Homo sapiens: one gene and its partners. The protein of the gene in region 2 interacts with the protein of the main gene of each other region in a biochemical or structural test. Each region holds a gene or a part of one and is shown on either strand. Other genes may lie near its edges.

Evidence for each region.
Region 1: the proteins of SACM1L (region 2) and COPA form a complex in vitro, tested with the Homo sapiens proteins (one study listed by BioGRID).
Region 3: the proteins of SACM1L (region 2) and COPB1 form a complex in vitro, tested with the Homo sapiens proteins (one study listed by BioGRID).

The regions. Positions count from the first base shown.
Region 1 is NC_000001.11:160,305,251-160,312,503, reverse strand, and holds part of COPA (coatomer subunit alpha), read left to right. Parts: intron 1-485; coding exon 486-636; intron 637-2,245; coding exon 2,246-2,312; intron 2,313-3,327; coding exon 3,328-3,403; intron 3,404-5,258; coding exon 5,259-5,341; intron 5,342-6,010; coding exon 6,011-6,150; intron 6,151-6,730; coding exon 6,731-6,816; intron 6,817-6,905; coding exon of another isoform or gene 6,906-6,932; coding exon 6,933-7,071; intron 7,072-7,253. UniProt on the Homo sapiens protein: The coatomer is a cytosolic protein complex that binds to dilysine motifs and reversibly associates with Golgi non-clathrin-coated vesicles, which further mediate biosynthetic protein transport from the ER, via the Golgi up to the trans Golgi network.
Region 2 is NC_000003.12:45,684,605-45,692,529, forward strand, and holds the start of SACM1L (phosphatidylinositol-3-phosphatase SAC1), read left to right. Parts: upstream 1-4,791; 5' UTR 4,792-4,861; coding exon 4,862-4,893; intron 4,894-5,743; exon of another isoform or gene 5,744-5,783; intron 5,784-7,925.
Region 3 is NC_000011.10:14,468,774-14,476,026, reverse strand, and holds part of COPB1 (coatomer subunit beta), read left to right. Parts: intron 1-81; coding exon 82-242; intron 243-1,411; coding exon 1,412-1,532; intron 1,533-6,463; coding exon 6,464-6,691; intron 6,692-7,166; coding exon 7,167-7,253. UniProt on the Homo sapiens protein: The coatomer is a cytosolic protein complex that binds to dilysine motifs and reversibly associates with Golgi non-clathrin-coated vesicles, which further mediate biosynthetic protein transport from the ER, via the Golgi up to the trans Golgi network.

The DNA of each region.
Region 1 (7,253 bases), on a different chromosome or scaffold from region 2:
GGGATGATGGTGCTAGTAGGGAAAGAGCAAAACATTTTAAAAAACAGAATCACAAAGGGTTTTTAACATCCATTTTTTCAGTAAATACTTCTTATACTCTTTTTATATGCTAGAGACTGGGGAAGGATGGAAATTATAATTTCTGCCTTCAGGGAATTCATGTTACAATGTGGGTGATAGACCTAAATGATTACAGTGCAGGATGATAAGTACTGTAATGGAGGTTTGTACAAAGCATTAGGGGAACACAGAAAAGGGCAGTGTGGATAGTGACACTAAGTGTGGCAGTGTGAATAGTATTAGGAAAGGATTCACAGAGAATTATTTAAATAAAGATTCCAAGAATTGTGAGAATTTAGGCAAATAAGGGATGCATTCAGGTGTCTTGTCTTACAGATATAATCTTCATCCTTACGTATCTCCAATTTCCAGGTTTTTTTCTTGCCTACAGCTTAATTTTTTCTCCTCCTCTCCCTGTCCCCCAGGCCATGATGGTGGTATGATTGTGTTTAAGCTGGAACGGGAACGGCCAGCCTATGCTGTTCATGGCAATATGCTACACTATGTCAAGGACCGATTCTTACGACAGCTGGATTTCAACAGCTCCAAAGATGTAGCTGTGATGCAGTTGCGGAGGTAAATCGGACTTGTTTCTTTCCTCCAAACCCTCTCATCTGTCACCCTGATACAACTCCCACAAACAAGACTCTTCTTTTCTTTCTTTCATTTATTTATTTTATTTATTTAATTTTTTTTTGAGACGGAGTCTCGCTTTGTCGCCCAGGCTGGAGTGCAGTGGCGCGATCTCGGCTCACTGCAAGCTCCGCCTCCCGGGTTCACACCATTCTCCTGCCTCAGCCTCCCAAGTACTGGGACTACAGGCGCCCGCCACCACGCCTGGCTAATTTTTTGTATTTTTTAGTAGAGACGGTTTCACCATGTTAGCCAGGATGGTCTCAATCTCCTGACCTCATGATCTGCCTGGCTTGGCCTCCCAAAGTGCTGGGATTACAGGCGTGAGCCACCGCGCCCAGCCTATTTATTTATTTTTAAATTTTTTTTTTTTGAGATGGAGTCTCACTCTGTCACCCAGGCTGGAGCGCAGTGATGCAACCTCAGCTCACTGCAACCTCCACCTCCTGGGTTCAAGCAATTCTCCTGCCTCAGTCTCCCAAGTAGCTGGGATTACAGGTGTGCACCACCACACCTGGCTAATTTTGTATTTTGAGTAGAGACGGGGTTTCGCTGTGTTGGTCAGGCTGGCCTCGAACTCCTGACCTTGTGATCCGCCCACCTCGGCCTCCCAAAGTTCTGGGATTGCAGGCGTGAGCCACCGCACCCAACCAAGACTCTTCTTTTAAATGACATTTTGGATCTCGTATTCTGTCACAGATGGAATCCCCATTAGATGAGCCCGCTCAGTTTAAACCCAATGAGTGAGGGAGGCAAGGAAGTGGTCATGAGTAGAATGATAGTTCCCTTCTTGAGAATGCTAGTGACCTTGTGGATGGAAAATCATTCTGCCACAATTTGCTGGGTCTCTTGCAAGCCAGAGGAAGTTTCTTGATAGAGAATGGCCCAAACTGGTAACAGAACTTTTCGCCTTTGTTTGGCATTTCTTTTCTTTAACTCTCCCTTGCCTTCCAGCAAAAAGTGCACAACTCTGAACCAGAATATATGTCCCTGGAAACTCTTAATTCTGAAGATACAATAACCTCTGGGATGCCTGGCAAAAGGACCTGTCCTTTTGAAAAGCCAGCTGCATCAGCATGCTGAAACATTCATGGTGGCAAAATTTGGAATGAGGTTTTGATAACCACCCTTTAGCATCATTACAATAAAAAAATGGGTTTATGTGAATACTCCAAGGGACAGGAGAAACCAGCCAGAGACAAATCACATTATGTTACTCTGTGGTGTCCACTGCAATTACGTGTAGGAATTTGTATCCAAGCAGAACCAGTCCCACTCACTACAGTGAGTGTTAACCCTACCTACCTTCTGTTGAATAATTTGACTTCTACTATGGCTTACTTTTTAAAACTGTTTGTTCAAAGCTGAGCTAGGGAAGTTGCCAAGCCTTAAAGGAAGAGAATACAATATTTATTCATTTTATTCCTGATTATAAAAGTGATGAGTATATAGTGTAAAGATTGGATAAGTAGGAGGTGTGGGGGTGATTCCTTTCTTCCTTCTATTCTTATGCCTCTTCCCTGTTTTCTCCTTTTTCTATATATATCTCTAGTGGTTCCAAGTTTCCAGTATTCAATATGTCATACAATCCAGCAGAAAATGCAGTCCTGCTTTGTACAGTAAGTAACCTGTGGAGCCCTCCTAGGTTCTCCTCATTTTCCATAGGTCTCTTTCTTATGCCCTTAGGGAATCTTTAATGGCTTCTTAGAAACTATTTAATGGTCATTTTGTGAGAGCTGACACAGTGATCACTCAGAGACTCAAATCAGGTAGGTTTCAGTTGTCGTAAACATATTGAGCATTTGTGAACTGCCTATCTTTCCTAAAGCTGAACTTAATGGAGCATCAGAATGAATGACCCAGATCACTAGAAATAATTTGAGAGAATGTTTAGACTATATATATATATTTCCTATGGAAAGAAAATGTTTACCTTGATCCCTTCCTTTGGGTGAAAATAGAAGAACTATTATTTTGAGAGGAAGTTCATATCAGTGGGGTTGGCTTCAGAGTCATCAATGACTCCTCTCTGTTTCTTGCAACAGAATTTGCAAAAAAAAAAAAAAAAGAAATGACATTCTAATTTTAGTGCCCTCGTGGCCAAGTTAAAAGGAATGAAGTTAAATGTCTTTCCTCATATAACTATATTGTCTAATCTGTTCTTCTTTAATATCTAGTAGTCCCATACTCTGAGTTTTCTTGAGTGTTTTTTCTTTTCTTCTTTTTCCAATAAACATTTGCATTCCTATAGTGTCTTTTCTTTGATGTCTTTTTTTTTTCCTTTCCAGAGGTTGAGTACTCAGTTGATGAGTCCTCAGGGTGGGGTACCAGAATATCAGGGTCCTAGTCTGTTAATTTGTGGAGTAGAGAGCATTTCTTACTTTCATTCAGATAATATCTGCATCTTTGGAGGATAAAGAAAATAAAGTGACATCAGTGCTGATGTGTTTGGCAAAGAGCCCTATAACTCATAGATGTAGAAACAGTCAAATGCCCTCTGGGTGAAGGGTAAGAAAAGTATGGTTTCAGATTGGTGTCTGTGCAATGGAACTGTTTTCTCTGTCAGAGTAAATTGGAAAACTGGTATCTTGGGTGCTTCTCACTAACATTTTAATTTCCCCTTTTCTTCTACAGAGAGCTAGCAATCTAGAGAATAGTACCTATGACCTGTACACCATCCCTAAAGATGCTGACTCCCAGAATCCTGATGGTAAGTGTTCTTTTTGTCTACCCCACTCTGCTTCCAGCTCTCCTCACCCGCATCATAACTCCTCTTCAAGTTTTTCACATTCCATCCCCAAGCCATGGCCACATCACTCATGTCTGTTGGCAGGTGCTGCTGACAATTGCATCAGAGGCGACCATGGTGTGAAATATTCATGTTCCTCCTCCATTTTATTACCCCAGCTAGATATATATATTTTATAATTTGGTTATTAGAAACTCTCCATTCTCTCTTTCAGCACAGCATGTTATCCTAGTTTATTGTCAGTTGATATGACTTTCACCCTGGTAGTTTCATTTATTTAAAAATGTGGTTCCAATCTTATAATGCCTCATCCTGGGACTAGGGATTTATACTGTCCTATCCACATCCAGATCCGATTTGCTTCCTTTTGCATGTCAAAAAGATGAGGCTGCTAACAGCCCCACACCCCACCTGGGATCCCAGGATCCAGCTGAGACTCCTGCCTACCTCTTCCATTACCACTATCCCTTGTTGATGTCCTTGTGATTAGAACTTGCTGACAAAACATTCTCAGAATGGATTTGACTATTGCCTATGGTCTTTTGGGTGCACTTCTTCCAGCGGGTTTATGGCTAGTACCAGGTCAGAGATTTATTCTGCAGATCCCCACTCTTACTGGCATATTTTAATGATATTTTAGACCCCATCAACAGATTCCTAAGAAATAATTTGCTAGCTCTGTTTCTTTTGTGGGTGCCCCTGGGTTATTATTGTTGCTAATCGATCTCCTCTCTTTTAAATGTGTTCATAGTGAGAGAAAGAAAAGATATTTGTATTTGGTATCCATAAGTCAAAGTCTCCCTTATAAATTAGTCAGTTAAGCCATTTCTGACTAAATCTTATGGTTTGGTACCTCCCAACTAGCTCTTTGCTTTTTTTTTTCCCCATCTGTGTTTACAATTAATAGAATTTAAAATATTTTGTTTTGTTTTATTACCACTTTTATTTTCTGTACTTCATTTTTTGAGGGAGATAATAATAAAGGAGCAGCCCAGTGGTGGGCAACAGAGATGGGCTTGAATAATGCAGATTCCTGGCCCCTGGAAAACGGGAGTGTTGGTTTTGATAATAATTAGTTTCATAAATTGCCTGCCACTCCAGATGCCAGGGGCAAGACTGGCCAGCATGTTCTCTCCAGTTTTCTGCTGGTCTAATAGGTAAAAGAGTATTTTGATGCACCCTTCTGTTTATCCTTCTACAAGTTTCCCAGAGAATGGAGTGTCCATTTCAAAATTCTAATAAGCCACTGAACTGAGGAACATTTTGTAACTCTCTTCAGGGTGATAAGAATGGTCAGTTGACATTTACAGAGCAACAACTTGGTTCTAAATACCGCCCAGCACCAAGCTCTCCTGTCAAGATTTAGTTGGGAGTGCTCTGCCTCACCCTGCCCTACTAGGAAGTCTGCATTTGCATGTTAAAAGCAGCAGAGAGCAGCTGCATCCTGTGGAGGGGGTCCTATGACACAGGCTTGCTTTGCCGCAGCTTGGCCAGGGAGGCCCTGCTCGTTAGCTTGATGGAGTGTGCTGTCTCCCAAGATGGGCGGCCCTTCTGCCAGTACATGATGTTGGCTGAAATGCAACCACTTGGCCTAGAGAAAAGAGCCTTGGCAGGGGTGGTGGTTGGTGTTTGGAGGGGACTGGTGGGGAAAAGTCACTCAATAATAGCCCCAGGTTATGGCTGAATTAGTTAGGAAGCAGCTCAACTGGCAAAGCCAAGATGGCATCCAGCAAGACTGGCAGCTCCATGGCACCCGACTATGTCACCTGCCAGTGACTCACCACATGCTCCCACCCTTTGGTTTTGTTCTTCTCAGCGCCTGAAGGGAAACGATCCTCAGGCCTGACAGCCGTTTGGGTCGCTCGAAATCGGTTTGCTGTCCTAGATCGGATGCATTCGGTGAGTTAAGACTAAAAGCAGAAACTAATTTGGGGAGTGTGGTGGCAGTGGCCTGTGTATTGCAAAATAAAGACCATTGTTTTTTCTGTTCTCCCCCGGGCAGCCGTGATTCTCATGTATTGGCTGTACCTCTGTCTCTAGCCCTACACTAAGCCCTCTTGGGGGAATGGCATTAAAACTGATTTGATTGGGTTGATGATCGCCGTGGCTCTGGGTTTAAGAACCAAGCTAAAGTCACTCTTGACTACAGGAGCCCAAAACGCATCAAATCTGAAGTGAGTGGGCTGGATGAGGAAATTTCCCTCCTTCTGCTGCCTCCATTGTTACTTGAAATGTAATAGGTCCAGCACAAGATAAAGCACTCTGAAGAAAATATTTAACAAAATTTAAGCCCCAGAAACAGTGTTTTCTCTCTCTCATTCATTGAGAAATTCAGACTTTAGTTGGGACTTCTCAGGATGTTTTAGTTGGAGGAGAAAAAATAATGTATTAAGGCCCTTAGAGAAGATCTTGGTTGGCATGGTCTGTCTGCAGTGGTAATTGACATGGACAGGACAAAAAATACTTAGTTAATTGAAGCTAAGGAACAATTGCTGAGGAACATCATCAGTTGTCATCATCATCTATACACATTTCTTCTCTTAACCCCATCTTTAATACTTATTGCAGCTTCTGATCAAGAATCTGAAGAATGAGATCACCAAAAAGGTACAGGTGCCCAACTGTGATGAGATCTTCTATGCTGGCACAGGCAATCTCCTGCTTCGAGATGCGGACTCTATCACACTCTTTGACGTACAGCAGAAGCGGTAACATATCAGGTGCCCCTAAGCAGACAGCCCTGTAGTTGGGGAGAGTGGACATCTTTAGTGGGAACCTTTTTTCCCCAAGTGAGTTTGTCTTGTGGCTTGGCCACTTCTTGTGCTCCAAGACTCTTTATAGTAACTTTTCCCTTCTGTGATCACTCTCCATTCTTCACGTCCACACTAGCATTACAGTGAGATTCTTGGTTATTTATCTGTTTTTACAGTACTTACCTGAACAAAGCGTGTTCTCCGAGCTTAGAATGAGAGAGAGACAGAGATTAATAACATAGTTCCTACATTTAAGGGAGCTTGCAGTCCAGTGGTGAAAACAGACATACACAGATTCCCTAATAATACAAGGAAATGAGGGAGAGGGGGTTGAGGAAGGGGTAAGTGCACAATGTGAGCCAAAATGTTTAAGTCACTGAGCTACTATGTAGGAATTACATTAAGTATTTTATGTAATTAGAATTACATTAAGAAATTGGGGTTTACATTAATTAGAGGGTGCAATTGATGTAGATCAAAGCCTGAGACAAGGGAAATAGATCCATTCATGTTTGCACATCTCTATCTATCTCAGGACTCTGGCATCTGTGAAGATTTCTAAAGTGAAATACGTTATCTGGTCAGCAGACATGTCACATGTAGCACTACTAGCCAAACACGGTGAGTCTTCATTATATCCACCCTGATTTAGAGACCATTCCCTTCCACCCCGATCCCTGCCAGTCTACGGCACTTACCCTATCCAACAGAACACTCATGCCCTTTGCCTCTTACAGCCATTGTGATCTGTAACCGCAAACTGGATGCTTTATGTAACATTCATGAGAACATTCGTGTCAAGAGTGGGGCCTGGGATGAGAGTGGGGTATTTATCTATACCACAAGCAACCACATCAAATATGCTGTCACCACTGGGTAAGTTAATTATCTGGGATACAGAATGGGAGAAGACAGCTTCCTGAAATCACTGTCTTGTCTTGAGATGTAACTGAAGTCCTCCATGAATTTTCTTCATGGAAAAGCCTTACCTGGCATATATGTGCAAGGGGCATCAGAACATTCTTTTTTCAACTTTTTTAAAATTGAGAAATCTAAAA
Region 2 (7,925 bases):
TAGAGGAGGGGGTTTGAAGAGGTGGTATTTGATTTACATAGAGCCCAAGGGATTGGTTTGACCAGGTGTGCCATTTACATAGCCCTCGAAGAAACTGGCCATTCCACCTTGATCTTTTATTATGCAGATAGGGTTTTTTACTTGGCCAGAGCCTTGACACCTGCACACATGGCAACAAACAGAAGGGAGGCGAAATCTTCCATATTGGATGCACCTGTCTTCCAGGTGCAGCTGCCGGCATTTATCTGTGCAAGCTTCTAGCTTGCTTATTTATGCTTGCAGCTTGACTTTTCAGGCTGCTTTCTGTTGGAAAAGAAATGGTTTTGGGGGCTGCTTTTTATTAAAAGAAAAGCCTTACCAAGGACTCCTGTACCCTATCTGCCTAAATTTTTTTTAACTACTATATTAAAAGGTCTGTAAGTGGGAGCTGGCCCTAAAAGTAGGTTGTAGAGATTATTTGGATGTGCCAACAAGCTTCATCTGCAGCTTGGACTGTCTCCATTGGAAGGCCTCTGGCAGATTTTGTAAAAAGTTATATAACAATTTTACTATAGGAAAAACTTGGCTACAGATATGAATTTATATTACCCATCATTGGCTGGTTCCTTATCCTGAACATTGGTTTCCTTGGAATCTGATTTTGGCTTGTTTGGCCTTTAAAAACCCCAGAAGAATGGGGTTTCTGCCAGATTATTTTCTGGTTTTCAGTCTCACTGAATGTCACAAAGGCCTTGGTTTATGGTTCCCAACTGGTAAAGAAACGTCAAACTTTGCCTCTCTTAGTTCCTTCTACATGACAATGGGTGGCAGTTGCTCATATGGAAGCATTTCTTTTCCCCCTAAAGCCTATGAGACAGGCTGCAACTTAAACCCCTATTTTATTAAAGGAGAGGAAATGTCCAAGAGCCCAGAGATAGTGGGTAAAAGCATCATAAGGACTAGAAATGGGGTCTTCTTGTTGCTAATTAGTAGGGGTGAGGGGTAAGTGGCAGATGTGACTGCCGTCCATGCCCAGACAGGGAATTGTCCTTGAACCTACTCATGCGGTGTCTTCTGGGGTACAGTGAGTCCACAGGGCAGGACGGCCTTGGAGTCAAGAGCCCAGACTCACATTCTATCTCAGGCTTCATAACTCAATTGCTCCATGACCTTAAGCCAATTTAGTTCCCTCATCTGTAAAAATGGGGATAACAACTGAATTTACCTCATGGGATTGTGTAATGCCCAACCTTGTTTTTACTAACCCTGTTTTTAGACTCTCCCTCTTCCTTTAATCACCTAGCCTTGTTTCCACCTGAATTGACTCTCCCTTAGCTAAGACAGCCAGACAGACTCCATCTTGGCTCTTTCACTGGCACCCCTTCCTCAAGGACTTAACTTGTGCAAGCTGACTCCCAGCACATCCAAGAATGCAATTAACTGATAAGATACTGTGGCAAGCTATATCCGCAATTCCCAGGAATTCGTCTGATTGATAACGCCCAAAGCCCCGGGTCTATCACCTTGTAATAGTCTTAAAGCCCCTGCACCTGGAACTGTTTACTTTCCTGTAACCATTTATCCTTTTAACTTTTTGCCTACTTTATTTCTGTAAAATTGTTTTAACTAGACCCCCCCCTCCCCTTTCTAAACCAAAGTATAAAAGAAAATCTAGCCCTTTCCTCAGGGCTGAGAAAATTTTGAGTGTTAGCCGTCTCTCGGTCGCTGGCTAATAAAGGACTCTTAATTCGTCTTAAAGTGTGGCGTTTTTCTAACTCGCTCAGGTACAACAATTGTTGTAAGGAATGATTGAATTCATCCAAGTAAGGGAATTAGAGCAGTTTCTGGCATGAAGTAATTGCTCAATAAAGTGTGTCAGGTTTTAAGATTAATTGATCTTTACATCATGATAAATGGCAACAAAATAAATGACAAATGGATTAAAGTAAATGGTAAAAACAACATAAGAACAAAACATTAAAAAATCATATAATAGAAGAAACCAAATATTAGTAAGTGTGAATATATAAAGTGAAAATTACTACAAGTTCAAATATATATATATATATATATATATATATTTTTTTTTTTTTTTTTTTTTTGAGACAGAGTTTCACTGTGTCACCCAGGCTGGAGTGCAGTGACGTGATCTCAGCCAACTGCAGCCTCCACCTCCCAGGTTCAAGCAATTCTCCTGCCTCAGCCTCCTGAGTGGCTGGGACTACAGGCACACACCACCATGCCTTGCTAATTTTTGTATTTTTAAATAGAGAGAGGGTTTCACCATGTTGGCCAGGCGGGTCTCGAACTCCTGACCTCAAGAGATCCACCTGCCTTGGCCTCCCAAAGCACTGGGATTACAGGCATGAGCCACCGTGCCCAGCCGTTAAAAAAATTTTGAAAAGGTAAATCATAAGCTGGAAAAAAGATTGCAACGTATTTAAGAGTTAATACCCTTAATATATTAAAAAATCAAATTTGTAAGAAAAAATTCAATACATCAAGAGAAAATATATAAAGTACATGTAAAAGGAAGTTCCATATTCCAATTATGAAAATTGCAAATCACGGTTAAATTTATAATAGCCAGTGTTGGTTAGCATGCACGAAAACAGAGAAACAGGTGCTGTTGATGGAAGTGTGTTTTGGTTTAATTTTTTGGAGGGCAGTCAGAAAGTAACAAAAGTCTTAAAAATGTCCATAAAATGGACCTTACAGATGTCCACCTGGTCGTTCCACCTCTAGAAATTTGTAAGACAAATAATTCGGCCGGGCACAGTGGCTCACATCTAACCCCAGCACTTTGGGAGGCTGAGGTGGGCGGATCACGAGATCAGTAGATCAAGACCATCCTTGCTAACACGGTGAAACCCCGTCTCTACTAAAAAATACAAAAAATTAGTCGGGCGTGGTGGCACACACCTGTAGTCCCAGTTACTTGGGAGGCTGAAGCAGGAGAATTGCTTGAACCCGGGAGGCAGAGACTGCAGTAAGCCGAGATCACGCCACTGCACTCCAGCCTGGGTGACAGAGCGAGACTCCGTCTCAAAATAATAATAATTCAACACAGGGTCTCATTCTGTTGCTCAGGCTGGAGTGCAGTGGCATGGTAACAGCTCACTGCAGCCTCAACCTCCTGGGCTGAGGTGATCCTCCCACCTCAGCCTCCTGAGTAGCTAGGACTATAGGTGCACACCACCACACCTGGCTAATTAAAATTTATTTATTTATTTAGTAAATAGAGATGAGGTCTTGCTATGTTGCCCAGGCTGGTCTCGAACTCCTAAGCAGCATCATTTTTTCTAGGTGTTAAACTGACAACCACCCAAATTCCCAGCATAAGGATTCTGCTTAAAATATCTAGCTCTCTGATGAAATATCTTCAAAGAATATTTAATGACCTTAAATCTCAGACAAAAAGGTAAGGAGACAAAATGAGGAACCCATTTCCGTACAACCCCAATTTGGAAAAACACATGTGCAAGTATGCCCATGTTAAAAAATATAGAAGAAAAAAAGGCTTTAAGGAAAAAAAAAATAATAGTAATGATTTAGGGTGGGAATCGCGTTAATATTCCCAATAATTTTATATATTTTAAAAATCTATAATTTTATCAGGGGAAAACGTTATGTTGCGGAAATTAATTGATCGATTGAGTGATTGGTTAACGGACAGTGTCCGATGACTCATATAATCCCCCGGTTCGAGTCCCTTTAGGCCGCAGACGTTTCGCGCCTTCTCGGGTGTCCAAGTCGCGCATCCATACAATGAGGGGTAATATACTAGATTACCTGAGGTCTTCTTACGGTAAAAACACCGGTGTCTTAAGGTTTCCCAGTGGAATTTGGGGGCCGGGTTGACTTCGGAGCTGGAGCTCGCAAAGGCCGGGGCTGCTGCAGATTCTGACGCTTTGTGGACCCCTACTACCGAGCGCAGCCGCACCGCAGGTTTTCTTCGCTGCTGGTTAGATCCAAAGCCCATCCCATCCTAGTAAACTGGGACAGCGCCGCTTCTCACATCACTATGGGGGCTTCTGCTCCGTGGCGGGGAAAGGCCAGAACTGCTGCCTTAAATACGCTTTTGCATCATCCGGTTGCTAACCTCCGGCCACAGCATTCCCCACTCCAAAATGCCACTTTTCCAGGTGTGTTTGCCTAAATTTACCCCATTTACAGACTTCTCAGGTGCATCATTGGGAACAGGGCGCTTTGCAGTTTGCAAACCACCTCAGACAACTCCAGGTTTAAAGGATAAAGGATGACATTGTGAGCAAAGCGGCATCAAAATTTCAGATATTTAACTTTCACATTCTAACCATACACCTTTCCAAGGTCTTGTAATACTTTCACATTGTGAATATACATCTTTACAAGACCCAGTAGTACATGGGTCAAGTGTGGCAAAACAGACATCGCGAGCCAGCCAGGAGTCGAACCTAGAATCTTCTGATCCGTAGTCAGACGCGTTATCCATTGCGCCACTGGCCCCGACTTGCTAAAGCCTTCTCCGTGATAGCTGATCACCCTTATACAGTTTGAACGGGCTTCCGGGTACCAACGATCCATTTTGCCCTTGCGCCGCGCTCCCGCTGCTCTGCCTTTCCCCAAAACGCGCCCCACCAATCCGCAGCGGCTTCGTCACGGCGCTCTTCGTCGCACTCCAACCCGCCGCGTCGGCGGCATCTCTCGCGTGCTCTTGCTTGCGCACTAATTTGTCCTCCACCGCCTCCCGTTCAGGCCGGCTCTCCTGCGGGGCGGGGAAAGGGGTGGGAAGAGGCTGGGAGCTGCGGCCGCTGTGCCAGGGTGACCGGTAGAGTTGTAGCCGAGGTGGCGGCGCGGGGCGGGGCGGGCGGAGAGAGAAGGAAGGAGGTGGTTGTGCAGGATGGCGACGGCGGCCTACGAGCAGCTGAAGCTGTGAGTCCCACGGGCCAGAGGCCTGAGGCGCGGCGGGCGGGGCGGCAGGTGCGGGCCCTGGCCTCGGGGAGGGCTTCTGAGTCCCGGATTGCAGATAGGGTGTGGGAGCTCCTCGCATTTACCGGTTTTCCTCAGCCGGCGCGGCCTCTCCTAGGCCTCGCCCGAGTAGCCATAGGCCGGGAACCAGCGGCTCGCCGGCCTTTCTCCACCGTGCTCGGCCCCAGCGCCCACGGCTGAAGAGAGAAGCTGCCGACTGGCCCCCACCGAGCCGGGGTCGGCGTTATGATGCGGCCCTTCAGGGCACGCTTGTCCCCACTTTCTATGCAGAGCTACCGACTAAATTTATCTGTATGACTTAACAGAGAAAAAGAGTTTTCTCTTACTTAACGGACCTACAGCAGCAATTTAGAGTCTACGCACAAATCAACAAATCTTTGTTTTGCTTACAGCCTATCTGGGTACCGAAGCCTGCCTGCCCCCTCTTCAGTGTGCAGAAAAAATTTAAAGTACAGTCAGTAGTCTTAAGGTCCTGAAGGAGTTTACTTTGGTTTAAATTTTAAACAGCTCCAGCCTAAAGCAGGTTCTTAAGTCAGTGTCGACAGCCAGAGGCTAATCTCGGTAATTTTGGTACTGCAAATTGACTTTTCGGTAAATCCAAGTTCTTGAGTCTTTGATACAGAGGCTGTGGTTGTTAAGAGTTATAAAATAGGTGTTTTTAAGGGTTTTGGTTTGTCTTGGATTAAAAACAACATGTGTTTATTTCCCTTAGTGTTACCCATTAGCATCCACACTTTTCTTGTCTGTGAATAATTTTGTTGTACTCACTTCGTGTTTAATGCTTTACCCCTAGGCTGTTTGAAAATCTGGTGGCCACAGCCTGGGAATATCTGGTAGGAGAAACAAATGTAATTTTTTAGAAGCTTATCTATCCCTGTATATGAGCTAAAATACCTTGGCAGTTAGGCATAGATACCGCATTTCTTTTGCAGGGAAATGACACCAAAATGTGGTTTGGGCACTTAAGCTCCTCAGACCTCAACCTCACTAGTAACTTTCTGAAAGGTTCAGTGGAAAGTTAGAGGTGCAAAATTCAGAGAGGTCATCTATTCCACATTGTATGTGTTGCAAAAAAGATGATTGCTTTTTCTACAGTGCACCCCCTGTGGGTGCCATTTCTGTTTACTGTAATGTTCTTTGAAAACCCTAGCTGCACACTTCCCTCCACATTTTCCTCTCCACCTTTCCCTATTTTCTCCCAGTTCCCCTTTGCAAAGTGCTCACCTCGTCTTTGGTGAAAGAGTTGAAGGAAGTGTCTTCCACTGCGTTTCTGGCCAGGCCACTGTCACATGTGCTCTGCTAGCTAATTAGGTTATTGTGTATCTGATAGGCACTGAAGGGTTTAATGTGATCCTACACCAGGTCTCAAATGTGTTTAAGCCATATGGAGCCATGGCTTCATGCAGCTTAGCGTGGCAAAGATTGAATAGGATGGAGAACTTGAGAATTATGATGATTGTTTTTCAGCTGCCAGAACACTAAATTTAACCAGTTCAGACCTTAAAACAAACCCAAATCCTCGCATACATAAAAGAGAAAGGAAATTTGTCCCTGAAGTAGTAAGAATGATGTTTTTGTATTGATTTTTGTGAGAAGTGGAAACTCTTAAATTATTTGGGTGATAAAGTCAAACTGGGGTTATGTGAAAGTCATTCTCTCATTTGTCAGTCCTAGCTTTTTTTCCCCCTGAAAAAAAAGTTTAGAGTGTTTCTGTAAATGTGAAGGTACAACTTTTTTGCACCTTTTTCTTTACCAAGGGGTTTATGAGTTAGAGTTTCCATTTTTATTCCTTCCTTTTGGCCCTTCCTGCTCTGAGGCTGCTGTTGAAGGTTTTCAAATGTGGCTCCTGCCCTAAGGAGTATTCTTTTTTGGATGCATTTAGAAGTGAAATTGGTTTCTGTGTAAGAATTGGTAGGAGATAGTAGCCATTTTTTAAAATGTGTCTGGAGATGTGTTTTAAGAAATATCCATGCAAAAGAGATAGTTCGATTATTTTATTACAAAAGGATTGCTAAAAGGATTTATTTAAATGTTGAAATGCTTGTTTTTTTTTTCTTTTGTTTCGTTTTGTCTTTAAAGAGATGGGGTCTCATTCTGTTGCCCAGGCTGGAGTACAGTGGTTTGATCATAGCTCACTGCAGCCTCTAACTCCTAGTCTCAAGCGAGCCTCCCACCTCAGCCTCTCGAGGAGCTAGGACTACAGATGCACACCACCACACCTGTCCTACTTCGGATTTTAAATAATAATTCTGTCTGCATTATGCCATGCTTTTTCTCCAGCCCATCTCTGCCTTGTTGAATTTCACCTTTCTAATGCTCTGGTTTTATCCTCTACTTTCCTGCTTACAATTTCCAGTTCCATCTTACTGACCTATAGGATCAAACTTGCATTTCTTAGCCATCTGTATATTCTAGCCTTTTTATAATCTGTCGCCTAATTTATTTCCCGTAACTGCCCAGAGCCTTTTCCCCACTTCTGCAAAACTTGGCTCATCCCCTTCTAGCTTCAAACTTGGGTGTTATTTTGATCCTTCTACCCAGAATGCCTTCTTCCTCTCTGTTCTCTTTACATACTGGTCACATCCATGGTAGAGCCAAGAGATCTCAGGTTTTGTTAGTCAGAATGGATATGGATTCATATCTTAACTTGACTACTTGTTTTGTGTCCTGGGCATAGTACTTAATCCTTCTGAATTGGTGTTTCAGTCTGTAAAATGGGAATGTTGATACTTCACAGGATTATTGTAAGGTTTGAAAGAGAGTTTTTTTTTTTTTTTATTATTTTTGTGAGACAGGGTCTCACTTGTCACCCAGGCTGGAGTGCAGTGGTGTGAGCTCAGCTCACTGCAGCCTCAGCCTCCCAGGCTCAAGTGATCCTCTCACCTCAGCCCCCAAAGCATCTGGGACTACAGGTGCACATCACCATGTCTGGCTGATTTTTTCTGTTTTTCAGTTTCGCCATGTTGCTGAAACTT
Region 3 (7,253 bases), on a different chromosome or scaffold from region 2:
AGAGAAACAATCAAATATTTAAAGATAATTTTGCTTGCTGTTGATACTATTACTAAAATGATGTTTCCAATTGACTTTTAGATCCCAATTGTAGAGTCAGAAATAAAGAAAGAAGCTGGTGAATTAAAACCTGAAGAAGAAATAACTGTAGGGCCAGTTCAGAAATTGGTTACTGAAATGGGTACCTATGCAACTCAGAGTGCCCTTAGCAGTTCTAGACCCACCAAGAAAGAGGAAGACAGGTAATTTATGGCACATATACCCTGCCAGCTGTACTACTTTTATTATTACTCTTGTATGTAAGACAGTCAAATGATTTCTTTCCTCTTGCTTTTGCAACCAAAATGAAAATCTTTGCCATTTAAGGTACTTGAGAAGCGGAGGATGTTTAAGTTCTTCCCCCTAGGAATTGTATTGATGGTTTTAATTCTCTGTCCCTTCCAGTGTTTTTATGGAAATAACTGTTCTGTTTAAACTCAAATTATTTTTACTCAGAAAATGCTAAGTGGGGGTAACTGAAGATATTTGAGTTTTGTTGTTTATTAGCATCTGAAAACATTTTGAAGATTTTTCAATTTCTAAATGATGGAATAAAATTGTGCATTTTTCTATTAAGTAAATTTTAATGGTGAAGATGGTGAAATCTTTGCCTAAAATTTTACTGAATACCCACTAAGTGCTAGGCATTGTGCTAAGTAGTTTGTCTCATATAGTCTTGACAATAAGCCTTTGAGATAGAATATATTATCTCCATTTTATGGAAGAAGAATTTGAGGCTTACCCAGTAAATAAACAGGTAAGCTGGAATTCGGAGGTACTTCATTAGCTGCAATTACGTATGCCCCTAATTAAATATTGTATCTTTCCATATTCTGATGGCTTTTGTGTCATTCAAAGATAAGTTTTCTTTTTTTTTTTTTTTTTTTTTTTTTTGACACAGAGTCTTGCTCTGTCGGCCACGCTAGAGTGCAGTGGCGCGATCATGGCTCACTGCAACCTGTCTCCTGGGCTCAAGCAGTTCTCCTGCCTCAATCTCCTGAGTAGCTGGGATTACAGGTTTGTGCCACCATGCCCAGCTAATTTTTGTATTTTTAGTAGAGACGGGGTTTCACCATGTTGGCCAGGCTGTCCTCGAACTCCTGACCTCAGGTAATCCGCCCGCCTTGGCCTCCCAAAGTGCTGGGATTACAGGTGTGAGCCACTGCACCTGGCCAAAGATAAGTTTTAAAGTCATGTATTATTTTTCTTTTTCCTTCTTTCTTCTGGGAGCTAAGGAGTTAGTTAGCTAAGGTATCCTTATCACTGAAGGATGGTAATAAGAGTGTTTAATAGGCCTATATCATTCATTTATACAGAAGCTGCATGCTGCTTAGCAAGTTGGTGGGTTTGATTTTCCTTGGTTGCTTTGCAGACCTCCCTTGAGAGGATTCCTTCTGGATGGAGATTTCTTTGTTGCTGCCTCCCTTGCCACAACTCTGACCAAGATTGCATTGCGCTATGTAGCTTTGGTTCAGGAGAAGAAAAAGCAAAATGTAAGTTCATTTATTTTACATTTAACCAACAATTAAACATTGAGTGCCTACTATATGCATTGAACAGTGAGGGACTCAAAAATTAATGCTAAGTTTCTGTCATGAAAGAGTTTATGATTTAATAGCAGAAGTGGACACAGTAATATATTACTCTAAAATTGATAAAGTATCTTCCTCTTCTGTTTGGGCTTTAAAAAAATGAAAATTGACAAAGTAATACAATAACAATGTCATGTGATTATTCCAGTGGAAGAGAAAGGATTTATGAAGTCACCTCAGTTTGCTGGGATTAGTTCAGGACCAGTGAAGGAAATGTCCTTCTCTCCAGCATCTGCATCCATTCGGTCATTGTCTGTTTTATCCCAGAATGTCTCTTAAGTTATTCTCATCTGTAGTTCATGCCTGCTTTGTAGCTTCTGACCGTTCTAACCAAACACCCATTTACAATGGTATGCAGTTGGTCCTCCATATTCACAGCTTCTGCACCTGCAGATTCAACCAACTATGGATTGAAAATATCTTTTTTAAAAAATGATAAACAGTAAAAAATAATAGAAAGTTGAAAACAATGCAGTGTAACAATTATTTACATAGCATTTACAGGCATACTTCATTTTATTGTACTTTGCACATATTGCTTTTTTTTTTTTTTTTAAACAAATGAAGGTTTGTGGGAACCCTGAGTTGAGCAAGTCTGTTAGCATCATTTTTCCAAATAAGCATATGCTCACTTCATATCTCTGTGTTACATTTTGGTAATTCTCACAATATTTCAAACTTTTTCATTATTATTACATCTGTTATGGTGATCTGTTATCAGTGATCTTTAATGTTACTATCATAGTTGTTTTGGGATGCCAGGAACCATTCCCATATAAAATAGTAAACGTAATCAATAATTGTTGTGTGTGTTCCGGCTGTTACCCCGTCTCTTTCCTCCTTGGGCCTCCCTATTCTATTCCCTGAGATACCACAATATTGAAATTAGGCCGGTTAATAATCCTACAGTGGCTTCTAAGTGAAGGGAAGAGTCACATGTCTTTCACTTTAAATCAAAAGTGAGAAATAATTAAACTTAGTAAGGAATGCATGTCAAAAGCTGAGCTAAGCCAAAAGCTAGGCTGCTTTTGCCAAGTAGGTAGCCAAGTTATGCATGCAAAGGAAATGCTCTTAAAGGAAATTAAAAGTGCTACTCCAGTAAACACATGAATGATAAGAAAGTGAAACATTTGGCAGGCGTGGTGACTCACACCAGCACTTTGGGAGGCCCGAGACAGGCGGATCACGAGGTCAGGAGTTCGAGACCAGCCTGGCCAACATGGTGAAACCCTGTCTCTACTAAAAATACAAAAATTAGCCAGGTGTGGTGGCAGGCGCCTGTACTCCCAGCTACTTGGGAGGCTGAGGCAGGAGAATTGTTTGAACATGGGAGGCAGAGGTTGCAGTGAGCTGACATCACACCACTGCACTCCAGCCTGGGAGACAGAACAAGACTCCGTCTCGAGGAAAAAAAAGAAGAAGAAAGAAAGCGAAATAGCTTTATTGCTGATAGAAAGTTTGAGTGGTCTGGATAGAAGATAAAACCAGCCACAAGATTCCCTTAAGCCAAAAGCCTAATCCAGACTAAGACCTTAACTCTCTTCAATTCCATGAAGGCTGAGAGAGGTTAGGAAGCTTCAGAAGAAGAGTTTGAAGCTAGCAGAGGTTGATTCATGAGGTTTAAGGAAATAAGCCCGTCTTCATAATGTAAAAGTTTGACATGAAGTAGCAAGTCCTAATGGAGAAGCTGTGGCAAGTTATCTGGAAGATCTAGCCAAGATCATTGGTGAAGGTGACCACACTAAACAACAGATTTTCAGTGTAGACTAAACAACCTTATATTGGAAGAAGATGCCATCTAGGACTTTGGTAGCTAGAGAGAAGTCGGTGCCTGGCTTCAAAGCTTCAAAGGATAGGCTGACTCTTTTGGTAAGGGCTAATACAACCAGTAACTTAAGTTGAAGCCATTGCTCATTTCCCATTTTGAAAATCCTAGGGCTCTTAAGAATTGTGCTTAATCAACTCTGTCTGTGCTCTGTCAGTGGAACAACAAAGCCTGGATGTCAGCACATCCTCTTTACGGGATGGCTTACTAAGTATTTTAAGCTCACCATTGAGACCTACTGCTCAGAAATAAAAGACTCCTTTTAAAATATTACTGTTCATTGACAATTTAGCTGGTCACCCAAGAGCTCTGATGGAGATGTAGAAAGAAATGAATGTTTTCATGCCTGCTAAGACAACATCCATTATGCTGCCACTGATCAAGTAGTTTCAACTCTTATTATTTAAGAAACAGAATCCATAGAACATTTGTGGTAGTAGCGCAGAGTTGGTTACAATGTCCTACCACAGCAATTTCTGACATTCAAATTGGGCCTGTAGCAATGGGACTCCTTTTGATTCCTTCAGCTTTCGTATTATGTTGGTTATCTATACAGCAGGTTTCTAAATTGAAACACTTTCACTCACATCACTCATATTTCCTTCGTTTTTGGAGACTAACAGCTTGATCTAAAAAAAAATTTTTTTTTAGACGGAGTCTCACTCTTCTTGCCCAGGCCGGAGTGCCATGGCATGATCTCAGCTCACTGCAACCTCCGCCTCCTGGGTTTAAGCAATTCTCCTGGCTCAGCCTCCCGAGTAGCTGGGGCTACAGGCGCCTGCCACCACGCCTGTCTAATTTTTTTTGTATTTTTAGTAGAGACTGGGGTTTCACCATGTTGACCAGGCTGGTCTCGAACTGCTGACCTCAGGTGATCCGCCCACCTCGGCCTCCCAAAGTGCTGGGATTACAGGCATGAGCCACCGTGCCTGGCCAGGTTCTTTTTGTTTTTGTTTTAATTCCATTATAAGAAAAGCCATAAATGAGAGCCAGATAATTTACAAGGTATATTATCCCTTAATTGATTTGATTTTTGAGCAATAATTTATTTTGTAACTCTTTTGTGGGCATTTATTTATTCAGGTCTGGTCACAGTATAATCTTTAAAGTATGTTTTTTAAAAGTCTCCAACATTTTTTTATCTCAGAGTTGAATTTGCTTTCCTCTCCTGGTTGCATCACTTCTGGAAGTTGGGAGTGTTTACTGATACCTGCTTAAAAGAGCCAGTTTCTTGTAACATACCGAGTTAATAATGTTTGCACTGTTTGGTACAAGAAGGAAGTTTGGTTGCTTATAATCTCACTGGCACTCCTTCATTTATGCCATTTCCAACACTCTTCATTTCTTTGTGTAGGACTAAGTTTCTGGTATCATACATCTTTTGCCTAAAGAATTTGCTTTAACTTTTCTTATAGTGCAGATTTGTTGGCAACAGATTGTTCCAGTTTTTGTCTGGAAAAAGCCTATTTTTTTGTACACTTTAGAAAGTTACCTTTGTGGGTATAGGATTCTAAGTCTTCTGTTTTTTTTTCCCAGTAGTGTAAAAGTAAAGCTCCATTGTCTTCTGGCTTTTTGGTGAGAAGTCTACTGTCATTCTTATCTCCCTGGGTGTAGAGAGAGAGAGAGTGTGTGTGTGTGTGTGTGTGTGTGTGTGTGTGTGTGTGTGTGTGTATTTCTTCCACTGGTTTTAGATTTTCTCCTTTTCACTTGGTTTCAGTAATTTGATTAGGATATGCCTTAGTGTGGTTTTCTTCATGTTTGCTGTACTTGTGGTTCATTGAGCTTGTTGGGTTTGCAGGTTTATATCTCCATCAGTTTGGGAAATTTTCAGTCATTTCCTCGGATTTTTTTTTCTGTCCCCTCCTCTCTTTCCTCTCCTTTTGGAGACAGTATCCAAACTTGGGGGACATATACTTACTCTTCTGCTGGTTTTTCCCAGGCCTCCAGTAGTTTTTCATGCATGTGTGCAGATCAGTACTCAGCCAAAGGCAATTTGGCAAGGGCTTAGAGCATATGTGTCAGGATAATGCTACATGAGACTAAAAAAGTAAGTTGCAATCACTTGTGGAAGACTTTGAATAGCGAGCTAAGTAATACGGACTTCAGTATGAAGGCTGACATTCATTAAAGGTATTTACATAGGGAATGAAATGATTGGTGCAGTATAAAGATTAAGATAGCAGCATCAGGTGATCACGCTTAGCAGCACAATAATTGGACAGCCTAACTTTAGGTACCTTGTGATGCAGTACAGGGTGAAATACAAAACATCACCTATCTGGTATTCTAATCAAAAGTGTGGGATATTCTATAAAACAACTGGCCTCAGTTCTTTAAAAAAGTTAGTGCGATTAAAAACAAAACGGCAGAGAACTGGTCTAGATTAAGAGGGATAAAATGCATGAAGCTGATCCTGGATTTAAAAAATAAAACAAAAACATTTTAAGACAATTTAGGGAGATTTATTTGAATTCAGAGTATAGAAGCTGTATTTTGGAATTGTTGAATTTTTCAGATGAGAAAATGAAATTGTGGTTTGTAGGAAACTGTTCTGACTCTTAGGAGATGAATGCTGAAGCATTTATGAGGTGAAGACTTTTTCACATGTCAGCCAAAAAAAATAAGTGTACATATACAGAATAGGTAAGCAAATGTGGCAAAATGTTAACAATTGGTAAAGTATATCATTCTTTTAACTTTTCTGTAGTTGGGATTAAAAAGGACAGCATCAGCATATGAAGTGGTTACAGAGAAGGACTGGAGCAAGGGAAAACAGTTAAAAAGCCTCTGCTGTCTCTAATTGAGGATTAATGCAGGTCTTAGAGAGTGGCAGTTAAGAGTAGAAAGGAAGGAGAAGAATGCAAAAACAGATATGGACATAAAATCCAAAGAATTTGAAATCTTATTCAGGTGAAGTGAAAATTTAGATTGTGAGTTATAATGAAGTGACATGATTGCAATCTGAGAATCAAGACAATATCAGTAACCGATTTCTTTACTTTCTTAGTCTTTTGTTGCTGAGGCTATGTTGCTCATGGCTACTATCCTGCATTTGGGAAAATCCTCTCTTCCTAAGAAGCCAATTACTGATGATGATGTGGATCGAATTTCCCTGTGCCTCAAGGTCTTGTCTGAATGTTCACCTTTAATGAATGACATTTTCAATAAGGAATGCAGACAGTCCCTTTCTCACATGTTATCTGCTAAACTAGAAGAAGAGAAATTATCCCAAAAGGTAAGGTATATATGATGAGGCAACAAAAGTGTTTTGTGTCTCTTCGTGCAGTGGCTCACGCCTGTAATCCCAGCACTTTGGGAGGCTGAGGCAGGAGGACTCCTTGGGGCCAGGTGTTTGAGACCAGTGTGGGCTACATAGCAAGCCCCTGTCTCAACAAAAAAAATGAGAAAATTAGCCAGGCATGGTGGTATGTGCCTGTCATTCCAGCTACTTGGAAGGCTGAGGATGAAGGATCGTTTGAATCTAAGAGTTCGAGGCTGCAGTGAGCTGTGATCATACCACTGCACTCCGCCTGGGCAACAGAGTAACAGCCTGTCTCAGGAAGAAAAAAAAGAAAAGAAAAGTGCTTTGTGGGTTTTCTTGTTGTTTTGTTGATTTTTCAGTTTTCATATGTGAGGGCTGTCTCTGTCAAAAGCCTCTAAAAAACTATCTTTTCATATTAAAGAGAGACTTTGTTATATTCTCAACACAGAAAGAATCTGAAAAGAGGAATGTGACAGTACAGCCTGATGACCCCATTTCCTTCATGCAACTAACTGCTAAGAATGAAATGAACTGC